Regions from separate parts of the Homo sapiens genome. Here region 1 is linked to region 2. Evidence: fine-mapped expression QTL. A gene starts in region 2. The other region holds a variant in brackets. All regions are shown on one strand. Distances are from middle to middle.

Region 1 (10,246 bases), 23 kb after region 2:
TTGATTGGTCGGGTCAGGGATGAAGTCATAGGGAGTAGAAGCTATTCTCTTGCACTGAGTGGGTTGCTGGGTGAGGCCACAGGACTGATTGGTGGGTCTCAGTGGAGCCACTAGTCATTAAAGGTGCAAAAACCTGAAAAGACATCTCAAAAAGCCAATTTTAAGTTCTACAATAGTGATGTTATCTGCAGGAGTAATTGGGGACGTTGCATATCTTGTGACCTCCTGAATAATGAATGGCTGGCAATCATTTATGTCTACACCTTAGCAGAATTCAGGCCCCTCTAATCCTCCTAGCCCCGGTGGTCTCTCACTAGCTTTACAAGGTGGCTGAATTTTGGGGAAAGGCTATTATCACTTAAGCTATAAACTAAACATCTCCCACAGTTAGCTTGACCCACGCCCAGGAATATTCAAGGGCGGCTTGAATGCTAAAGGCAAGATGGGGGTTGGCTAGATCAGATCTCCTCCACTGCCATAGTTTTCTTGCTGTTGTAACTTTTGCAAAGTCAGTTTCATTTCTACCACACAGCATTCAGGATTCAGAAATACTTGGTTTCCCTATTATTCTAGGCACACAAGAACCTTGTGAGTCCTGGCCCTTTTATTATTTATTCATTTATTCATTTATTTAGATGGAGTCTCACTCTGTTGCCCAGGCTGGAGTACAGTGGCGCCATCTTGGCTCACAGCAACCTCTGCCTTCACCTCCGGAGTTCAAGCAATTCTCCTGCCCCAGCCTCCCTAGTAGCTGGGATTACAGGCGTGAGCCACCTGGCCTGGGATCCTGGCCCTTTTAAATCAAGTATGGGCATATGACTAGTTCTGGCCAGTGGTTTGTGGGAGGATGTGTTATGTGTCGATTCCAGGGTGGAACACTTAATTGTGGGAGCAAGATCTTTGAATTGTGCTCTTTATCTGCAGTAGTGATTGTAGATGGACAGGCGGAGATAGAACCTCCTTCATCTGCATCCCTGAAAGACTAAAATGAGGGGAGTCCTCACCCACACCCTATAGGTATGCAGATTACATAGAAAAGAAAAAGGTTATTTGGGGCTGTTTTTTTAAGCACAGCATAACTTAGCCTATGCTGTTAATAATCATGCTAGCTCATACATGTGGGAAATACTTTCCCTGTGATGTTGACCTGTCAGAGTGAAAATAATACTCTACATGTGAATCTCAAAACCTGAATTATATTCTCAGGTGTGCTTCTTATTACAGACACAGCCTTGAGCAAGTTAATAATTCATCAAAAAATGTGTTGAGCACCTACTGTGTCCCAGGTGTGTCTTTGTCACATTTGTCTCTGCGCCTTGGTTTTAGCAATTATAGAATTAGAGAATTTGACTAGATTTTTAATTTTGTGATTTTAACATTATTATAGTATTACTTTGTGCTCACTTGGCTTATTTCTTGGGCTCAAGTGTGTTTTCCAATGACACCTGTGCTCCAGATCTCCTTTTTTCTAATCTTTTCTTCTGGGAGAAGATAGTGCCTCTTATGCTTATGCTGCAATTAAGCAACTTGTGGAAGAGGCTTATGTGGTGACATTAGGAAAAAAGGTAAGCAGACTGTATCCTTTAAGCCAAATCTGTGTTTTACTGGTATACAACTGTGCTGTGCTATTTATTTATGTATTGTGCATGGCTGTTTTCACTGTATGCTGGCAGAGTTGACTAATTATGAAAGAAGTAGAATTCCCCACAAAGCCAGAAAGAAAGAAAGCAAGGAAGGAGGGAGGGAGGGAGACAGGGAAGGAGGAAGGGAAAGAAGGAAGGAGGGAAAAAGAGAAGGAAGAAGGGAAGGAAGGAAGGGAGGGAGGGAGACAGGGAAGGGGGAAGGGAAAGAAGGAAGGAAGGAAACAAGGAAGGAGGGAAAGAGAGAAGGAAGAAGAGGAGGGGGGAAGGAAGGAAGGAAGGAAAGAGGGAAGGAAAGAGGGAAGGAAGGAGGGAGCCTACCTAAAATCTGGCCCTTTACAGAAACGTGCTGACTGCTAGCCTGGAAATATCTGCATGTGTTTACTCTAATTTCTTATTTATCTCTTGTTACCTGTATAAATTTCTAGAACTCCAATGATACTGCTTTTGCTAAGGTGGCCTCAGACCTCCTAACTAAACCTAATAAACCTCCTAACTAAACCTAATAAACCTAACTAAACCTAATAAACATCTTTCAGTCCATTTGATATAGGAGTTAGAAAGAAATTATTTAGGCAGATAGTGAGGGTAAAGAAGTCCTCGGTAAGGTTTTCCTTTTAATGAAAAGCAGCCCCAAAATAATTTCTTTTCTAACAAACAGCAGCCTGTAAAATCAAGCTGCAGACATAGATAAGCAAGCTGGAAGCTTGCACAGGTGAATGCTGGCAGCTGTGCCAATGGGAAAAAGCTAACCTGGGGGCCAGGTATGTTCAACATGGGGGCTCCACCTTCCCTTTTCCTTGCCAACCATGTGTACAATAAGGAGAAGACAACATGGCGCCAGCCCGGTAGAAAACACATTTGCATAATAAAAGATTAGGGTGGGGTGGCCAGCTTCTTCATGAGCTATTACAAAAGAAATAGAATGCCCCACAATCCAGAAAGAAAGAAAGGAAGGAAGGAGGGAAGGAGACAGGGAAGGAGGAAGGAAAATAAGGAAGGAAGGAAAGAAGAAGGGAGGGAGAGAGAGAGAAGGAAGAAGGGAAGGAAGGAAGAAAGAAAGGAAGGAAGGAAGGAAGGAAGGGAAAGAGGGAGGGAGGGAGGGAAGAATGGAAGGAAGGAAAACGGAGGGAGGGAAGAAAGGAAGGAAGGAAAGGAAGGGAAGGAAGGAAGGAAGAAAGGGAGGGAGGGAGGAAGGGAAAGAAAGAAAGAAAGAAAACGTCACACCTGGTCCAACCAATCTCTGGGCCCTGTGTAAATCAGACACCACCTCCTCAAGCCAGTCTATAAAACCCAGTGCACTCTGCCATGACTGAAGTCTCATTTGGGCGCCCCTCTCTTTCCCAGGAGAGAGAGCTATTCTCCATTCTCTTTCTTTTGCCTATTAAACCTCTGCTCCTAAAACCATTTCTTGTGTGTCCATATCCTTGATTCCCCTGGTGTGAGACAGTGAACCTTGGGTATTTACCCCAGACAGTGACGCCGCTTCACTTTCAAGAAGGTATCTCTAAAAGATAAAAGATCAGATTATGGCTAAAAAGAGATGTAAAGTTAATGGACAGTTGATTTTTAATTCTTTTTAATTTTTAAAATAATTTTAAGACTAATTTCAAATACAGACAAAATATATTTAAATTTGATTTTACTTAATACTTTAAATATAAAATAATTTTAAGATACATTATGTTTTATGATAAAAGAATTTTTTAAATTATAATAGGAAAAAAGAAAAGTCCTGGAGGAGAGAAACAAAGTTTTGATTATGAGGAACTGCTGCAATCTCACTTTGATTCTATTGAAGGGTACAGCAAGGGAGAATGGCAATAAATTATTTAGGAAATATGTGTTCAGGGTAGAGCACAGATAGCATCATACATCAAGGAAAGAAGTTTAAGCTTTATTTTGTAGGCAGCGGGACAGAGTGATGTTTTTCAGCTTAAGGTGACCTGCTCAGACTAGAGTTTTATGGAAATCAATCCTGTAACAACTAATGTCCCTGATATATTTTGTTTGATCTATACACAACACAATATAGCACATTTACATTTCATTTCTTCTAAATAAATTCAGTACTCCATAAAAATTTATTCTATACTTACTTGTGTACTTTTCATATTTTCACTACTCTCAAGTCAATTCCTTGAGGAGAAAGAGATCTAGAAAATATCACTGAGTTTTCTTACATGAAAAAAATTATTATAAAATATACATTGCTTCACTTAACTTTATGCTTACAAGTTTATGACTAGTAGGCTTAACTTTTCCGTTGGAAAAAAATCAAGATTATTATATTTTATGACATGAATTTTGTAACTGCCCAATGGGTTCTTCCTCCCCACTGCACACACAAAATCAGCTCACTGAGACTATGGCATTGCGGTAAAAAAAAGAGTTTCATTGATGCAAGGCCAGCTGTGCCACACGGGAGATGGAGTTATTACTCAAATCGATTTCCCCAAAGGCTTGGAGGTTAGGGGTTTTTCAAAGATAGTCTGGTGGGCAGGGGGCTAGGATAGGGTGCATGCTGATTGGTTGGGTTGGAGATAAAATCAAAGGAATGGAAGCTGTCCTCTTGTGCTGAGTCAGTTCTTGGGTGGGGGCCACAGGGCTGGTTGGTGGGTCTAGGTGGGGCCGTCCAGTTGTCAGAATTGCAAAATTCTGAAAAGATATCTCAAAAGGCCAATCTTAGGTTCTATAACAGTGATGTTATCCGCAGGATTAACTGGAGAAAGTGCAAATCTTATGACCTCCAGAATAACGGCTGGTAATTATTGAGAATTTAAGCCCCTCTTATCCTCCTAACTTGGTAGTCTTTCATTTGTTTTATAAGAACAGTTTAGTTTCGGGAAGGGCTATTATCATTTAAACTATAAACTAAATTTCTCACAAAGTTAGCTTTGCCCACATGCAGAAATGGACAAAGAGAACCAATCTCTAAGGCTAGAAGCAAGATGGAGTCAGATGTCTCTTTCCATCATAATTTTGCAGAGACAGTTTCAATTTGAGCTAGAAGAATGAATGTTCTTTCTCAACAATAGAGAACATGCTTGATGGTATTCTTTAATATAACTACACTTAAATTTTATTTTCTTA[T/C]TCATTAAACAGTTAAACAGCTTTATAAGACATGATGAAAGCAGCCATCCCCTAGTTCCTTCTTCACCCTGATCTGTGATCTCCAGAGGAAATGATGTTCAACTCATTTTTTTCTGGTATTTATTATCAAATTCCTCAACGATAATATAGAATATTGTTTCTTAGTTTTTTCAATAGTAGTATCTACTGACTTCATACTATGGAAGATGAGGATTGAGTTCTATAATGTACCCTTTCCTATAGTCACCCACTGTAGTTATTGATCTTTTTTATTAATATTCAATTTGACATTATGATTTGCATATAATAATCCATAGCTGAACCACACACTCATTAATGAAGGAGCCTTTTTTGTGTAACACTTTTGTTGCTTCACTTTAATCAAGTCCTATTGCTTGTTTAATTCCTTTCTTATGTACCTTCCACTGATTTTTGCCCAAACTCCCACCCATTCATCTAAATAAAACTCCCCACAACCTGTTCATAAACAACAAGCAAATGTGATTGTTTTGTTTCTTAGAACAATCCTTCTAGAGTCCTTGGATACCCTTGCTCTAATTGGGAAAATTTGCTTCCTGGGACAGCTCCTCTTCATTATACTAGGATTTCCTTTCACCATCATCTCAGGAATTCACTTCACTCCACTCTAAAGTCAGATTTCCTGTTTCCCAGAAAACAGTTCATATTTCTTTCTTTATTGGTTTACAAGTTTACTTCAGGTGAGCATCACAGTAAATTACTGACAAAGTGTGCATGAAAGATCAATTTTTTTGAGACTTTTGCATCTTTTTAAATGTTTTATTATTATAATCCCACCACTTGACTATTTGATAATACAATGCTAAATTGGAAATAATTCAGAATTTGAAAGGCATAATTCCATCATCTTTTGACAATAGTGCTGTAACACCATTCCAATCCCCAGTTTTTTGTTGACAACTTGCTTCCACCCCCTCCTCACCCACCCTCCCCACTCTGCCCTACTTCATCTTTCCATCCCCTACTCCATGTTCTGGAAGCTTTCCAAATAAAGTCTCTGTCCCTGGGTTCTGAAATGTCTTGGTAGGGGTAATATCTTTCCTCAATCACTGTGATAGTGTTAGAGTAGGTAGTTAGCCAGACATGAGCAGGACAGGAGAGGGCCCCCCACCTCACCAGGAATGTCAGGTGACTATCAGGTTATAGTCAGGTGGTTATTAAACTCTAAAATAATAAGTGGTAGCGGCCAGCACCAGGAAGAGCTGTCTCCCAATAGACAAAAAACACCTGAAGCTGGTGATCAGCAGCTTCCCATTAAGATCTTAGGAGTTGGGTGATTGGGCTCAAGCATGCGCACTAAGAGGCACAGTAGTAGAGTTTAACTGGTATATGACCTTCCTCTAGGAACACTTGACTGGTAAGGGAAAAACACCTCAAGTGAGCATGCGCACAACTTCAGTAAACACACTGCATATGTGGTGCCTCCCAAGTGCTGGCAGGCCACTGCACATGCAGACAGCCCATCCCAAGGGAAGAATCAGAGAGAAGAGACATAAAACCCTGGAAGCATGCCAACATATAAAACCCCACGTCAAGGACTAAATGGCACACTTGGATCTCTCAAGTCACCTCCATGGTCCTCTTCCAAGTATACTTAACTCTCTTTCATTCCTGCTCTAAAACTTTTTAATAAATATTCACTCCTGCTCTAAAACTTGCCTTGGTCTCTCACTTTGCTTTATGGTTCTCATATGAATTCTTTCCTCTGAAAAGGCAAAAATCAAGTTACTGCAGACAAATATGGATTCATCCCTGCTTACATACTTTGGTGCTGTTGTTACCAAAACACCAGGGGTTCGGTCTAGGTCCTGCTACTTGCCACACAGAAAGCCAAGCCCTAAGATGACAACTATTGACAAGGAAGAAGGCTTTAATCAGGTGCTGCAGCTGAGGAGATGGGAGCTCAGTCTAAATCCATCTCCCTGACCCACTAAAACTAGGGGTTTATATAGAAGGGAAGAAATGTAACAATGTAAGAGAACAGGAACTAGGGAGGGGCAAGGAAGCAATAATGTTGAATGATAGGTCCTGGCATCTGATTGTCTGGATGTGGTAATCTGGTGAATTTTAGTTCCTTGATATTTTTTTTTTGAGAGGCCTGAAAGTTGTTTCCTGAGGAAGGAACTCAGATAAAACAAATATAAGTTTTAAGTTTTAAGACCAAAAGTGTCAATTCCTATGTTTATCAAGAAGAACTGTCTATGGGACAATTGGGTCAGGTTCACCATGACTGGGATACTGCATGGGATGGGTTTGTGAGAGCACCAGGTATCCTAAGGGAAACTTTGGAGGGAACCAGCTACCAGATGGTTTGATTAGTCTTTTTTCCTATACCCAGGTTGGACACCTAATTTGCACATCAGGACTGCCATGGACCATGGTGCAATGAAGGTGAAGACTGGAGCACTCATCACCCACGGTGGGTTCCCAAGGACTCTCCACTCTACTGAGGGAATACCACCAGTCTACCACTGGTCTGTATCTCCTGCCACGCTGGGGAGGTGGAGCATGAGCACAGGTGTTAGGAAATGAAAGATTGTGAACTATGCCTGGGCAAGATGAAGCCAGAGGAAACTGGTGGAGGTCCGCAATGGTCCTGATGGGCAAATCGATTGTCCAACCTGGATATAGGGATGAAAGACTAATTGAATCATCTAGTAGCTGGTTCCCTCCAAAGTTTCCCTCAGTATAGCTGGTGCTCTCACAAAACCCATCCCATACAGTTTTATCCAAGTCACAGCACCAAAGTATGTTAGCAGTGGTGAATCCATATGAGTCTGCAGCAACTCAATTCTTCCCTAGTCAGAAGAAAGAATTCATCCGCAGAGCATAAGTCAGAGTGAGAGATGAAGGCAATTTTTACAGCAGGAGCGAAAGTTTATTTAAAAGTTTTAAAGCAGGAAAGAAAGGAAGTAAAGTACACTTGGAAGAGGGCCCACTGGGCAACTCCAGAGTTCAAGTGTGCCATTTAGTCCTTGACTTGGGCTTTTTATATGTTGGCATGCTTGTAGGGTTTTGCATTTCTTCTTTCCTGATTCTTCCTTGGGGTGGGCTGTTTGCATGTACATGCCAGCACTTGGGAGGGGCCCCATGAGTAGTATGTTTACTGGAAGTTGTGTGTATGCTCACTTGAAGTGTTTTCCCCCTTATCAGCTGAGTGTTCCTGGAGGAAGGTTATATGCCAGTTAAACTCCACCATTATGCCTCTTAATGTGCATGCTTGAGCACACTGAACTAACTCCTGAGATCTTATTGGGAAACTGCTGACCACCACCTTCAGGTGTTTTCTATCTATTGGGAGACTGCCTTTCCCCGGTGCCAGCAGCAACCAATTATTATTTTAGAGAAACAGTTTAACAACCACCTGACTAGCACCTGATGGTCATCTGACATTCCTGGTGGGGTGGGGGGCTTCTCCTGCCCTGCTCATGTCTGTCTGGCTGTCCACTCTAATAATAGACACATAGTCCTTTCAGTCTAGGAAAGTACATTCTTTCCTACCTGTTGTGGGACATTTTCTTCTGTTATTTCTTTGGTAATTTCCTCAGAAACATTTTTTCAATTCTCATCGTCTAGATTACTACTTAGATGATGTTGAATCCTTTTGCCTAATGCTATATTTTCTTATCTTCACTCTTCTATTTTTCCATCTCTTTGTCTTTTGGGCAGATTGTCTCAACCTAAACTTCCCATCCTCCTGTTGATTTTATGTGTATTTAGGAGATGGGATTTACTATTTGAGAGCATTTTGTTGTCATAAGGTTCCTTATTTATTTTGCCTTTTCTTTTGTAAATTGACAAATAAAAATTGTACATATTTATGATATATAGCATGATATTTTGATATATGTATACACTGTGGAATGACTAGTCAAGTGAATTAACATATCTATTACCACACATACTTACCATTTTTTGTAGTGAAAGAACATTTAAAATCTACTCTCTTAGCAATTTTCAAGTATACAATACATTCTTATTAATTTTACTCACTGTGATGTAGAATAGCTCTCTTCTACTTACTTCTGCTAACTGAAACTTTGGATCTGTTGACCAACATCTCCTCAACTCCTTCGTCCTTCAGCTCCTGGTAACCATAATTCTACTCTCTATTTCTTGTTTCTTTTTGAGACAGGGTCTCACTTTGTTGCCCAGGCTGGAGTATAGTGCCCTGATCACAGCTTGCTGCAACCTCAAGCTCCCATGCTCAAGCAAGCTTCCTGCCTCAACTTCCCAAGTAGCTGAGACCACAGGCATGCTCCATGACACCTGAACTCCTGAACTCAAGCGATCCTCCTGCCTCAGCCTTCCAAAGTGCTGGGATTACAGGCATGAGCCCCTGAACCCTGCCTACCCTCTGTTTCTATGTGGTGTTTGTCTTTCTAAGCCTGGCCTATTTCGTGTAACATAATTTCCTCCAGATTTATCCATATTGTCTCAAATGACCAGATTTCTTTCTTTTTTAAGGCTGAATAGTATTCCATTGTACATATATACTACATTTTATTTATCCATTCATCTGTTGATGGACACTTAGGTTGATTCCATATCTTGGCTATTGTGAATAAGCTGCAATGAACATAGGAGTGCAGATACTGCTTTGACATATTCATTTCATTTTCTTTGGATATGTATCCAGAAGTGGAATTGGGCTGGAATATAGGCAGTTCTATTTTTAATATTTTGAGGAAACTCCATATTACTTTCCATAATAGCTGTGCTAATTTACATTCCCACCGCCAATGTATAAGGGCTTCCTTTTCTCCACATCCTCTCCAACACTGGTTATCTCTTGTCTTTTTGATATGTTTTCTCTTCTCTGTAAAGCTATTGGTTGTAGCATTTTACTTTTTCCAAATTTTTTTAATCAAACTTTTGAAATGTATAGCTGAAATGAAAGAATTTTAGCATGAATGCTAATATACACTCAGCACCTATATTCTTGCTTTTTCATGTATTTACTCCTGAATTAATATATTACTTGTTATATGCTTTTGAAAGTAAACTGCAAACAAGTGCATGCTTCTCCTAGATCTTTCCACATGCTCTGCCATTAATTAGAGTTCAATGTTCAATTTTTTCCTTTTGATGTACAATTAATACACAATTAATTTACACACACATTTTACTTAGTTCTGAAAAATGTATATACTTTTATAACTCAAAGCCCATCATTATACAACATTACTATCACCCTAGCAAAATCTTTTGTGTCCCTTCTCAATCACCAATCCTGACCACACCCCAAGAAAACTACTGTTCAAATTTTTCTCCATCATTGATTGGCTTTGTCTGTTTTAGAACTTCATAAAACTAAAATACTGTAGTAAATTATGTACAATTTTATGACTAGCTTCCTTTGCTCAATATAATGTTTTCGAGATTTATTCATATTGCTGCATGTCAGTAGTTGGTTCTTTTTATTGCTGCATATTTCATTGAATAAAAATGCCAAAGCTTGTTTATTCATTCTT
Region 2 (10,246 bases):
GAAACCAAAATGTGGATGCTAGGTGTGCTCATTGCTACCAGGATGTTGTTATTCCCAGGCCCTTCCAGTAGACAGAGTTGGGAAGTAAATGTAGGTATATGCACTTAAGTATATGTAAATACATACAAATCTATATTTGTTTCTATTACATCTATACCTGTTTCTATTATTGAAAGTCATGAGATCACACCAACACCTCCAATTTCAATCCAACACAACAAGGTTCATTCTAGCTTTCCCTATACTATCTCTGTGACTCCTATGTCCATCAGTAAGAAGGCTGACTTGAATATATATTTTTTCAATATATTTAATTATTTTCTGAATACCCTGCCCCCACCTTGTACGTAACAAATCTTCTGACCCTGCCAGGCCACTGCCCACTCAGCCCCTTTCTTTAATTGTGCTCTGATACTTTCCAGGTGAACTCCCAACTTAGCTCTCCTTGTCATATGGGTCTTAGCTGTAGTCTTAGCTGTTCTCTTTGTATGGTTCATGGCTTCTTAATTGAATTATGAAAAAAAAAAGGGAGGAAAGCCTATGTTATTTTTGTAGTCTCATATTTCCATTGATCACATTCTCTTAAGAGAGACCCACAAATATTAAAATACTATTTTTTTTCTTTTTTTTGTAATGGGGTCTCCCTCTGTTGCCCAGGCTGGAGTGCAATGGCATAATCTTGGCTCACTGCAACCTCCACTTCCTGGGTTCAAGCAATTCTCCTGCCTCAGCCTCCCGAGGAGCTGGGATTACAGGTGTGCATCACCATGCCTGGTTAATTTTTGAATTTTTAGTAGAGATGTGGTTTCACTGTGTTGGCCAGGCTGGTCTTTGGTCTCAAACTCCTGACCTCAAGTGATCCAGCTGCCTCAGCCTCCCAATGTGCTGGGACTACAGGCATGAACCACCATGCCTGCCCAAAATATTATTTCTTTTTTCAAATTTATTGATGCCATATTGGTATATGTACATATTACTATTTCTAAGGTTATATAGTGATTTATTGAATTGAATTTTGGGTCACTTTATTAAGCTATTTAAAAGCTGCATGAAAATAAAATACATTAAGGCAGAAATGAAAAATAAATGGGCTGGTAATAGAAACATGTTAATTAAAGTAACATTTTAAAAAACTGTTTTGAAGTAAGTCAATGACAACACTTAACTTGGACTCTAGGCAAAATTTTATAAAATGGAACTGCTTTGTCTTCTGCCTCCTCTAAATGCTCTGAGATTATAAAGATTAATGCAAATTTTGATATAGGAAAAGTCTTCATAACTTTGAGCACTGGGGAAGATCACCTGACAATCATTACTCCAAAAAATATATTTACAATATTTAAGTTGAACATATTATAACTACCAAGCTTATATTTTATTACTTCTCTAATAAAAGCATTTTCCTAATCATTTTTATTAAAATGACACTTTTACCTTTATTAACGACAAATTATTTTTAAACATTAAAATATCTTTCTGGAGGGGTATTTTACCTCTGGCCATAAGTGAGTAACTAGTATCCTTCTTATCCCCAAACAACTGCCCTAAACAATCATAAGCCTGCCTAAATTAGACAAAAATATTTCTTTTCATGTATTAAATAACAGGTAGCCCACGGCTGTGATCCTTATGAGAGGGGGAACAACGAAAGGAGATCTCCGCAGACACTACAGCTCTCTGATAAACGCAAGGAGCATTTTTTAGATATGATCAGGGAGGTCAATAAAGTGAAATAATGGGCTTGCTGAGGGTTGGCAGCAAATTGGAGTTCAGGGTTGCATACATGGCTGGAAGAAGTGCCGTGGGGTACCAGAGAAGAGCAAGCTGGGCAACAGCAAAATATATAAGTGATGCAGGCTTTGATCATAAGTTTGATAAGTCCATTTTATAACATATATGCCAAATCAGTTAATGCAAATTTACACCATGTGAGTAGAAGCACTTTGAGTGGAACAGAGAAGGTGATAGTGATTCCATTCTATTTGGAGTGGGTCATACCATACTTAGAGAAATGTAGTGACTTTTGTTTGCCACATCTTCAGTACACAAATTTAAAAATTCCATGGTGATTTTATGAAGATCCCCACTATTTGGCTTCTTAGTAACTTAAGATTTCACACTCTTGTGAGTGTGATCAGGCCTGAACCAAGATATATAACTGCCCTGAGCACTCTTCCAATCAATAATGGGAGAAACTCAAAAGTTTCTATTTCTTTATATAAAATGTGTGTGTACACAAACATACATGGAATATATATATTCCACTATATATAATATTTATATATATTACAAATATTTATCTTGTAAGATGTAAACCATTACATCTTACAAAAATTAGAAAGTTTGTGAAATGTATTTTTCATCTTACACCTTCATATTATCTAATCAGAATATCATTGTCCAGAATTCTAATGCAATGATTTTTAGGCATAGTTTTGTAATGCTCCAAAACATCTTCAATGAAATTTAAAAGTAGTACAAATTTATTCACCTGAGTCAGCTGGAAACAAAATTAATTTCAATTTAAAATAAATTTTGAAACACCATACTGCATGTAACACTTTAATAAGCATCTCAAATCATAAAATATTAGCAATAAACTAAGTAAGAAATAAACTAAGTGAACAAACTAGGTAAATAAGCCCTACAGGTAAAAAAGAGGATCAAGTATTCTCAATATCAGTGAATAGGTTACTTTTTGCTATTGTTTTAAAAAACATTCATAGATTATCTTTAAAGTATCTCATACCAATTAAGTTTTCTTAAAACATTCCTAACTTAAACTATCCACAAGGGGGACATATTATCAGATACCGCATATTTTCCAAACTGAAAGAAGCCTGTGTCAGCTACACTGACTCAACACAACAAAGCATAGATGACAAGACATGAAGCGGCCAATTTCAATTTGTGAGTGGTAAAAGGAGATTTTAGCTCAGTTTCTCAAAATGTGGCCCAGAAATTAAAATTGTAGCAAACATTTGTGCTGCTTCTAAATATGTTCAGATTGCTGGGCACCTCCTCTGACCCAAATCAATTCCTGTGAAAACTATTGAGTAAGGTCCTAGAAGAGAATGGACGGTCTCTAGGTCAACAATGTCCATTTCACAGGTGGCACTGGTTTTCTAACATGAAACAAGTAGGCTACACGCTAGTAAAATCTTCCAATTTTGTGAAATACGTATAATTGTACTCTCAAAGTCAAGCTCTATCATGATCAAAATTGTTGCATAAGGAACTGTGTTACATCCAGCTTTTATTAAAAGAGAATTTATTATCCATTTTTCTCCCTTCAATTATTTAAAGTGGACATCAAACCTTAAAAAATGCACTACTCATCACTGCAATCTAAGCTAATGCCAGTGTATGTCATATGTATTCAATAAAATACGAAGCATGGTGGTGCTTGTTTTTTGGTGAGGGGACCTAAAGCTTTTATGAGACACGTTGCTATCACTTAAAATTCTTCAGCGCATAACTTGCTGGTGAGCATCAAAAGGTGGGGGTTAGGGGGCACTTCATAAATATCCATTTGAGTTTATTTTCTAATTCTGCAGAAAGTTTACATATATTCCTAATTTTATTATTATTAAAATCTTGGGGATTTTAAGATAACAAATTAAAACAGTATTTATTAAAAACAATTCATTTATTCTCCCAGGCTAATTGTACTTTATACTCCAGGAGAGTAGAGAGAAAACACACACTCTAAATGTATGTATTTTATGATTCTTTCGATGCAATTAATACACTGCGTTGCAGAAGGTTTTAGGCTTCTGCCTTTAAAAAAATTATATAGGATTATGTATAATCAATAATCATTAAACTAAAGGCAAAGAAAAGAAATCTGGTAGTTCCATCAATTTTATTTCGCTCTTGCATGGATTGCCTTTGTTAACATTTTTGGCAGAAAAAAGAATCAAAGCAATTGTAGGACTCTGCACCCCACAATGCGAGCTTCAATTGAAACAATGGTCTTATCGTCTAAGACAGATCAACGTTAAAGTTGGGCAAAAAAACTTAGGAGATCTTGCAAATCTTGTTATGTGAAACCCGTCCTCCCAAAAGACCTATTGGACCACACCTTTGTCCTCCGCGCCCTTTTTTTGCAGGGTCATTAACTCGCATTATTTTTTTGTTCTCCACAGTTCTCACTTGCTTCTCTTCAGTCTTTGCTAGGTTTTCCGCGATCTCCAGTGCAGCCCCTTCCACTTGCCGCGATTCTGCCTCTCTCAGACACTGACACGTAACCTCCTCCCCATACCAAGCCCTCACCCCAAACCAAGCTGTTAAGAACAGCTACAACTGCTTCTGGGAGACGTGGGGGGCGGGGGCAAGGCGGGGGCAAGGCGGGGGCAAGGCGGGAGCACCTCGACCCTCCCGCGAACTCTCGCCGCCGGTCAGTGCCCCCTGAACTGGATGGGACCAAGGGAGTCCCTCCGCAAGGGCCTCCACTTCTGACTACGGTCCGCACGCCCCACCCCTGCTCAGCACCCTGGCAACCCGCGGGACGCTTTGCTGGTGCCAGGCTTCAATCTCTTGTTCTCATTTTCTCGTGTCCTCGCGCTCTTCCTTCTACTGTATTTTTGTCTTAAATTCTTTAATGGCGAGAGAGAGAAAAAAAAACAAAACCAGCTCAGAGCTATAGTCTTCTTCCACAAATACGTGTGTGCTTTTCAGAACCTTTCTCCGTCCCTTTCTCCTGCTAACACATGTGGGGTCTGCAGTGCAAAGGACTCTCCTTTCGTCCAGTGACCAAATGGCAGTCTCTCAGTTTGCCAATTTCATTCATCACGCCCGCACCGACTGAAGCCTACTCCTCACCAGTTCAGCTGTCTTCCAGTTAATTGTATTAACTGCTAAGCACCTCCTCCACCTTTTCGGGTTCTATTACCGCCCTCATTAAAAAAAAAAAAAAAAAAAAAAAAAAAAAGAAGGAAAGAAAAGAAAAGAAAAAAGAAAATCCAACACGAACACTCAAGATAGCGTGAATTCAAAAAAGAAAGTGTGCGTGTGCAACACAGTCTGAGTGTGTGCATCCGTATGCGTCGCCTGCCTCAGCCTGCCCGGGTCCTGAACATGTAGCTGAGAGGTGCAGGACAGTCAGAGGGCCAAAACTTCCCCTGCCAGGCTGAGGCTGGGCCCTCCCGAGCTCACCTGTCCGCGTTCAGGTAACTGGCTAAGTGCCCGCCCGGCCGCGTTCCAGGACACCTGGCCGGGACAGAGCGAATGCCAGTGAATCCCAGGGCGCCCTCTCCCGCGCGTTGGTTCTCTAGCCCTCCTTCCCTGGGAGGGGTGGGATTGGGAGTGTTCTGTTTTCATTACTGCACCCCTTCCCCTAAAGACAACGGGACTGCCCTCCTCCACAGCGCCTTACCTCAAACAGGGGACCGATCTTGTTCTTCTCCAGGTAAGCCTGGATCCGGGTTTGCGGATGAGACGCCATGGGGAACAGATGGGACCGCGAAGAGAGTGCAGGGAGAACGCGCGGCTGTGCGCCTCCGCTGGGGACAACCCTCCTTTTACCCGGACTGGGGCCGGGACAGGAGCTCCGGAGCCTCGGCTGCCCTGCGTGGCTGGCTCGGCCCCGGCCGCGGGCGTGGGTGGCAGCCCGGGGAGCCACGCGCGCGTGGGGCGCTGAGAGCCGGAAGCCTGGGCGCAGCGCCGCCAACTCAGACAACTCCGAGGCGAGGGGAGAACTCATTCATCGCGTTCTCCGCCTCGCGCCCACCCTCGCCGCTCTCCGCAGCGCCCGGCGCAGTGGGGAAATTCGAGGCAGAGGTTCCTTTCTCCTCTGGGCGGCAGCAGCAGGAATCAGGGGGCGGGAGGCGAGCTGTGTCGAGGGGCGCACGCGGGCGGACAGGGGCCGCGGGGCTCGAACTCGCCACCGGTGTGTGTGCGTGCGTGCGTGTGTGTGTGTGTCCGTGCGCGCGCGACTGTGTGTACCTCCTTTCCCCGGTGACGGAACAAACAGCCCGGGCTGCTCCCCGAGGCTGCTCGCCCTACCAGCCGCTCCCTAGCGACAGCGCCGCTTAAAAAGCCAATGGTGAAGGTGCTTCTTTCAAAGTGCACATAAATCTGGTGCTTGTTGGCTACTCCTTGGCAGCTACAAATGCAGTTCGAAAGGGGATCGTCCCCACCGCCCCTTCTGAGCCTCTCCTCAGCACCTTCTGCCCTGCCTACTCTAGCGCAGGGGTTGAGAAGGGCAGAGTTTTGAGAAGGTGCGTGGGTTTAAGGGTTTGCCGCGAAAAAGAAGTTGCCTTCCTTTTCAAAATCTGGTTTGGCCTGGAGCAAGTCGACGGGTGAACGCAGCCTGAGAACCCAGCTGAAAACTCTCAAAGTGCAGGAGCTCAAAGGCTGGAACCAGCCTTTCAGCATTTGACAGGGAGAAGAGAAATGAGCGAGCCAGCCCTCCCCTCCAAAGTTGGCCTTCCTAATCCACGCCTTGAGTCATGTCTGTATACCTATAACTGCATCTCAGACACCACACTATCCCACTTCATAATGTTTCCTCTAGATACTGCGTGAGCTGCTCAAATTTAGCCAATACCTTTCTTATTATGCAGGGATTTCCGAGTCGAAGGTTTGCAGATAGCCCAGGCTTCCTCACAGAGCTCTCTTTCTTGTGAAATACAATACTAAGGTCCCAATGACAATTTCCCTGGCTCCTAACCATGATGTGCTGCCAAAATTAGATTTATTTCTAATAAATATAAATTTTCAGAATGATGGAAACAGTTTTCCTAAAAGCTGACTGCAGCAGTATATATTTTTTTCTTTCTTTCTTCACTGTGTTCTGGATTTCTGTTACTCATAGTTTCTTTATTGGTGTTCATGTTTTCCTTCTGTATTTTAAATATGTGGAAACATGTAATAGATAAGTGTGGAATATCCCAGGAACTATTATTAATTTCATGCATTAAGACATAAGAAATCTGCTAGAATAGCTAGGAGCTTAACCATCCCTGATAACCTGAAATGGACTTGATCCAGAGTGGAAAGATGTCCACATTAATACTTTTACAATCGGACTCATATGATCTGCCTAGGGAGGGTTAAGTTAAATAGCAGTGAGGTGTCCAGGGTTGCCTCGTGCTTTCCATTTTGGTTCGAAGGTATATTTACTTATGTATTTTTTAATGTGTCCAGGAGAAATTAAATACACAGAGTGAATACCAACATTTCTATTTGCTAAAAGGTATAGCGTAGAGCCATAAGGAAGGCCATCTATGACCCAGCTAAAAAGCCTACTATTTTTGATACCACATAAGGTACCAAGATGGTACGCTTCCTGAAATCAAGAGTCTTTCTCTTTTAAGAGGCATCAGGAGGATGCTTCTTTAAATGAAATAAAGACACTTATTAAGTCTTCACCATGCTCAGACTATTGCACTTAGGGCTTTGAATAGAAGAGACAAAGCTTCAGCTGGCAAAATGTGTATGTTTTAAAGAGAGAATGAAGCCAAGTACAAAGGCTCACGTCTGTAATCCCAATTATGTGGAAGGATCACTTGAGGCCAGCAGTTCAAGACTGGGCAACATAAAAAGACCCCATTTCTAAAACAAATTGTTTTTTTTAATTAGCTGGGCATAGTGGTGCACACTTATAGTTCCAGCTACTGGGAAAACTGAGACAGCAGGACCCTTGAGCTGCAGTTTGAGGCTGCAGTGAACTATGAGTGTGCCACTGCATCTAGGCTGGGCCATACAACAAGACTCAGTCAAAAGAAAGAAAGGAAGAAAGAGAGCAAGAGACAAAGAAAGAAGAGCAACATGAGGATATGCATACCCATTTATGTATGTTAAAACTCTGAGCATCCCAAAATTGCACATTTAAAATTCAGGGAGTATTTTCAAAGCTTTTCAAGGCCAACATTAAATATCACCTCCTTCATAAAGCACTTCTTGGTTCTTTCTATTTATCCCTAAACATGGCTTCATTACTACAATAAACATTTATTGCATAGCTTCTCAGTGACAGACATTATGTTAAGACTGGGAATTCAAAGGTGAAAGGCTTTGTCTTTGTCCTCAGTTGCTTCGTCTTGTTGAGGCAATCGGCATATATATAAATAATGGCATCAGATGCTGGGCTTGGTGGCTCACACCTGTAACCCCAGCACTTTGGTAGACCAAGACAGAAGGATCACTTGAGCCCAGTAATTTGAGACCAGCCCGGGCAGGATAGCGAGACTTTGTCTCTATTAACAATAAAATAGTAGTCTCAGCTACTCATGAGGCTGAGGTAGGAGGATCTGTTGAGCCCAGGAGTTTGAGGTTGCAGTAATTGCACCACTGCACTCCAGCCTAAACAAAGCAAGATTCTATTTCTTTTTTAAAAAAGATAGCATGTACAGAGGCACAGAGACACCCAACAGGCTGGTAGTTAAAGATATGTAAAGTATATGTGGAGGAGTATTATTTTCATGTGAGGTTAAAAATGTAAGCAGAGTTCAGCTCATTGAAAGTCCTAAATGCCTTGTTAAGAACAATAGACTTACATCTTGTGGATAATGAGAAGTGACTTGTTAGGCTACAGAATCTGTAACAAATCATGGGGTTATTGTTAGGACTTAAGATATAGGGTTAACGGGGATGGGATGGATTCCAGACATAGTAAAGGACTAATGTTGATTAACTAAATGAAGGATGAAGTTAGAGGAGGAAATCAAAGATGACACTCTGATATCTGACATGAAGCTAAGAGATGACAAATTATTTACCCAAGTCACCCAATGTATCATTGGTAGGGCAAGGTTTTAGTTCAGGTTTTTCTAACTCTAAAGCTGAAGCTATTTCTGCTCTCTACCCTGTAACCTGGAAACTAGTCAAAAATTGAGTTTATAGATATTAGCACCCCTTTGTGGGAACAGCTATGTCTCATGACTTGGCACATAGTAGATACTCCAGAAATAGCAATTAAATGAATGAATTGAATTTTAGAATATCAATTCAGTCCAGCTATGTTCTTTCAGTCTAAACTTTGCCTCTGACTCATGGCATTTATACTCTGTTTTGTTTCCTTTAGTCAATTGCATGCATATTTTGGTCTCTCTTTTAAACTGCAAACTCTCTAAAATCATGAACTGTATCTTAATAATTTTCTTTTACTTTACAGTGTGTAACACAGTATATTTTCGCATAGTAGGTTCTTCATAAAATATCTTTAATTAAGGTACTATTACTATAAGTTTTAAGATTTGTATTAGGTAGTCCCTTTAAAATTGGCTGAAAGGTAACCATTGTCTTGGATTGAATTTATCAACTTTTTCTGCACATATGCCATGGTACCTTTAGGATCCTTTCGCCGTTTTTGGGTTGGATACAGCATGAAAAGACCATTTTCGGTGAGACTGTTTTGACCTCATTGTGTTATAGAAGTGCCTGTCAGCATAATTTACAGATGTACAGAATCCAATTTATAGAATTCACTAAAGCCATTGTCCAACTCCATTTGTAAGACACCTTGCACAGTTCCTTACACAAATAGGTTTCGGAGAGATGAGGGAACAGTGGTGAAGTCCAGTTGACCCAATTAGGAAGTATTAGCAATGTAATCCATTGAAATTAATTAAATGTTGAAGTCAGAGAGCAGAGATGTTCTATATGGATTTCTTGAATTTAGACTTCTATCCCTGAAGCATACTTATCCTCTTTCTGTTTTGGTTTCACCTTGCCACTTTGTAACAAAAAGGGAAAAATATCTTTCCAAGGAACCCAGCACATATGAATAATCTGGCCATAAAAGGGAGGTGCACATAGAGAGTTTTCTTCATTTTTGCCCGAAATGCCTCCCACAACTAATGCAAATGAGCTCACATACAGCATTTACTATGTACTAGGTATTGATAACAGCACTTTATACACTCCCTCAACTCATTTAATTCTCAAAACAACATCATGAAGTAGGTACTACTATTATTCCCATTTTTTTAGATGAGGAAACTGAGACACTTACCAGGTAAGTAACTTGCCCAAGGTCATAGCTAGTAAGTAGCAGAGTATCTTGAACCCCAGTGATGTATTAAACCCCCACTGTCAAGGTTGCAAGAGTACCAATTCAAGTACAAATCAGTCTGATTCCCTTTGCTTTGGATTAGTTCTGACCAAGCTGTGTTTTGATGACTAGTTTGACTTCCCCAGTGTGTGGGTATGGGAAGGGAAGTAGTATGGGTAGCAGATAACGGGGTAACTTTCTGGCTCCATACTAAATGAATATGTTGTCTCTTGTGAGTTTGAATAATAG

Alleles and levels. Positions count from the first base shown, and alleles are read on the strand shown. Sizes are in standard deviations (SD) of each study's normalised expression.
For the expression in sun-exposed skin of the gene that starts at base 5,226 in region 2, C is the low allele of the variant in region 1 and T is the other (small effect, 0.28 SD a copy in GTEx).

Evidence for each region. PIP is the estimated chance that this variant, and not a neighbour inherited with it, causes the effect. A credible set is the group of variants that fine-mapping cannot tell apart.
Region 1: its variant is the best candidate, but not a certain one, in a credible set for the expression of C8orf34-AS1 in sun-exposed skin (GTEx, PIP 0.79).

Annotation. Positions count from the first base shown.
Region 1 is chr8:68,303,463-68,313,708 of GRCh38, reverse strand. It overlaps C8orf34-AS1 (C8orf34 antisense RNA 1), which reads left to right. Exons shown (of 3, transcript NR_038877.1): 2 at 7,111-7,191; 3 at 8,908-10,241. Among named protein-coding and RNA genes, the nearest start is that of C8orf34, 22 kb to the left of the region's middle. RefSeq lists a silencer at 7,236-7,436. The variant T/C (reference allele first, on the strand shown) is at 4,734.
Region 2 is chr8:68,326,471-68,336,716 of GRCh38, reverse strand. C8orf34-AS1 (C8orf34 antisense RNA 1) reads left to right here and starts at 5,226. Exons shown (of 3, transcript NR_038877.1): 1 at 5,226-5,410. It overlaps C8orf34 (chromosome 8 open reading frame 34), which reads right to left and starts at 5,762. Exons shown (of 14, transcript NM_052958.4): 1 at 5,378-5,762. The coding sequence starts at 5,704.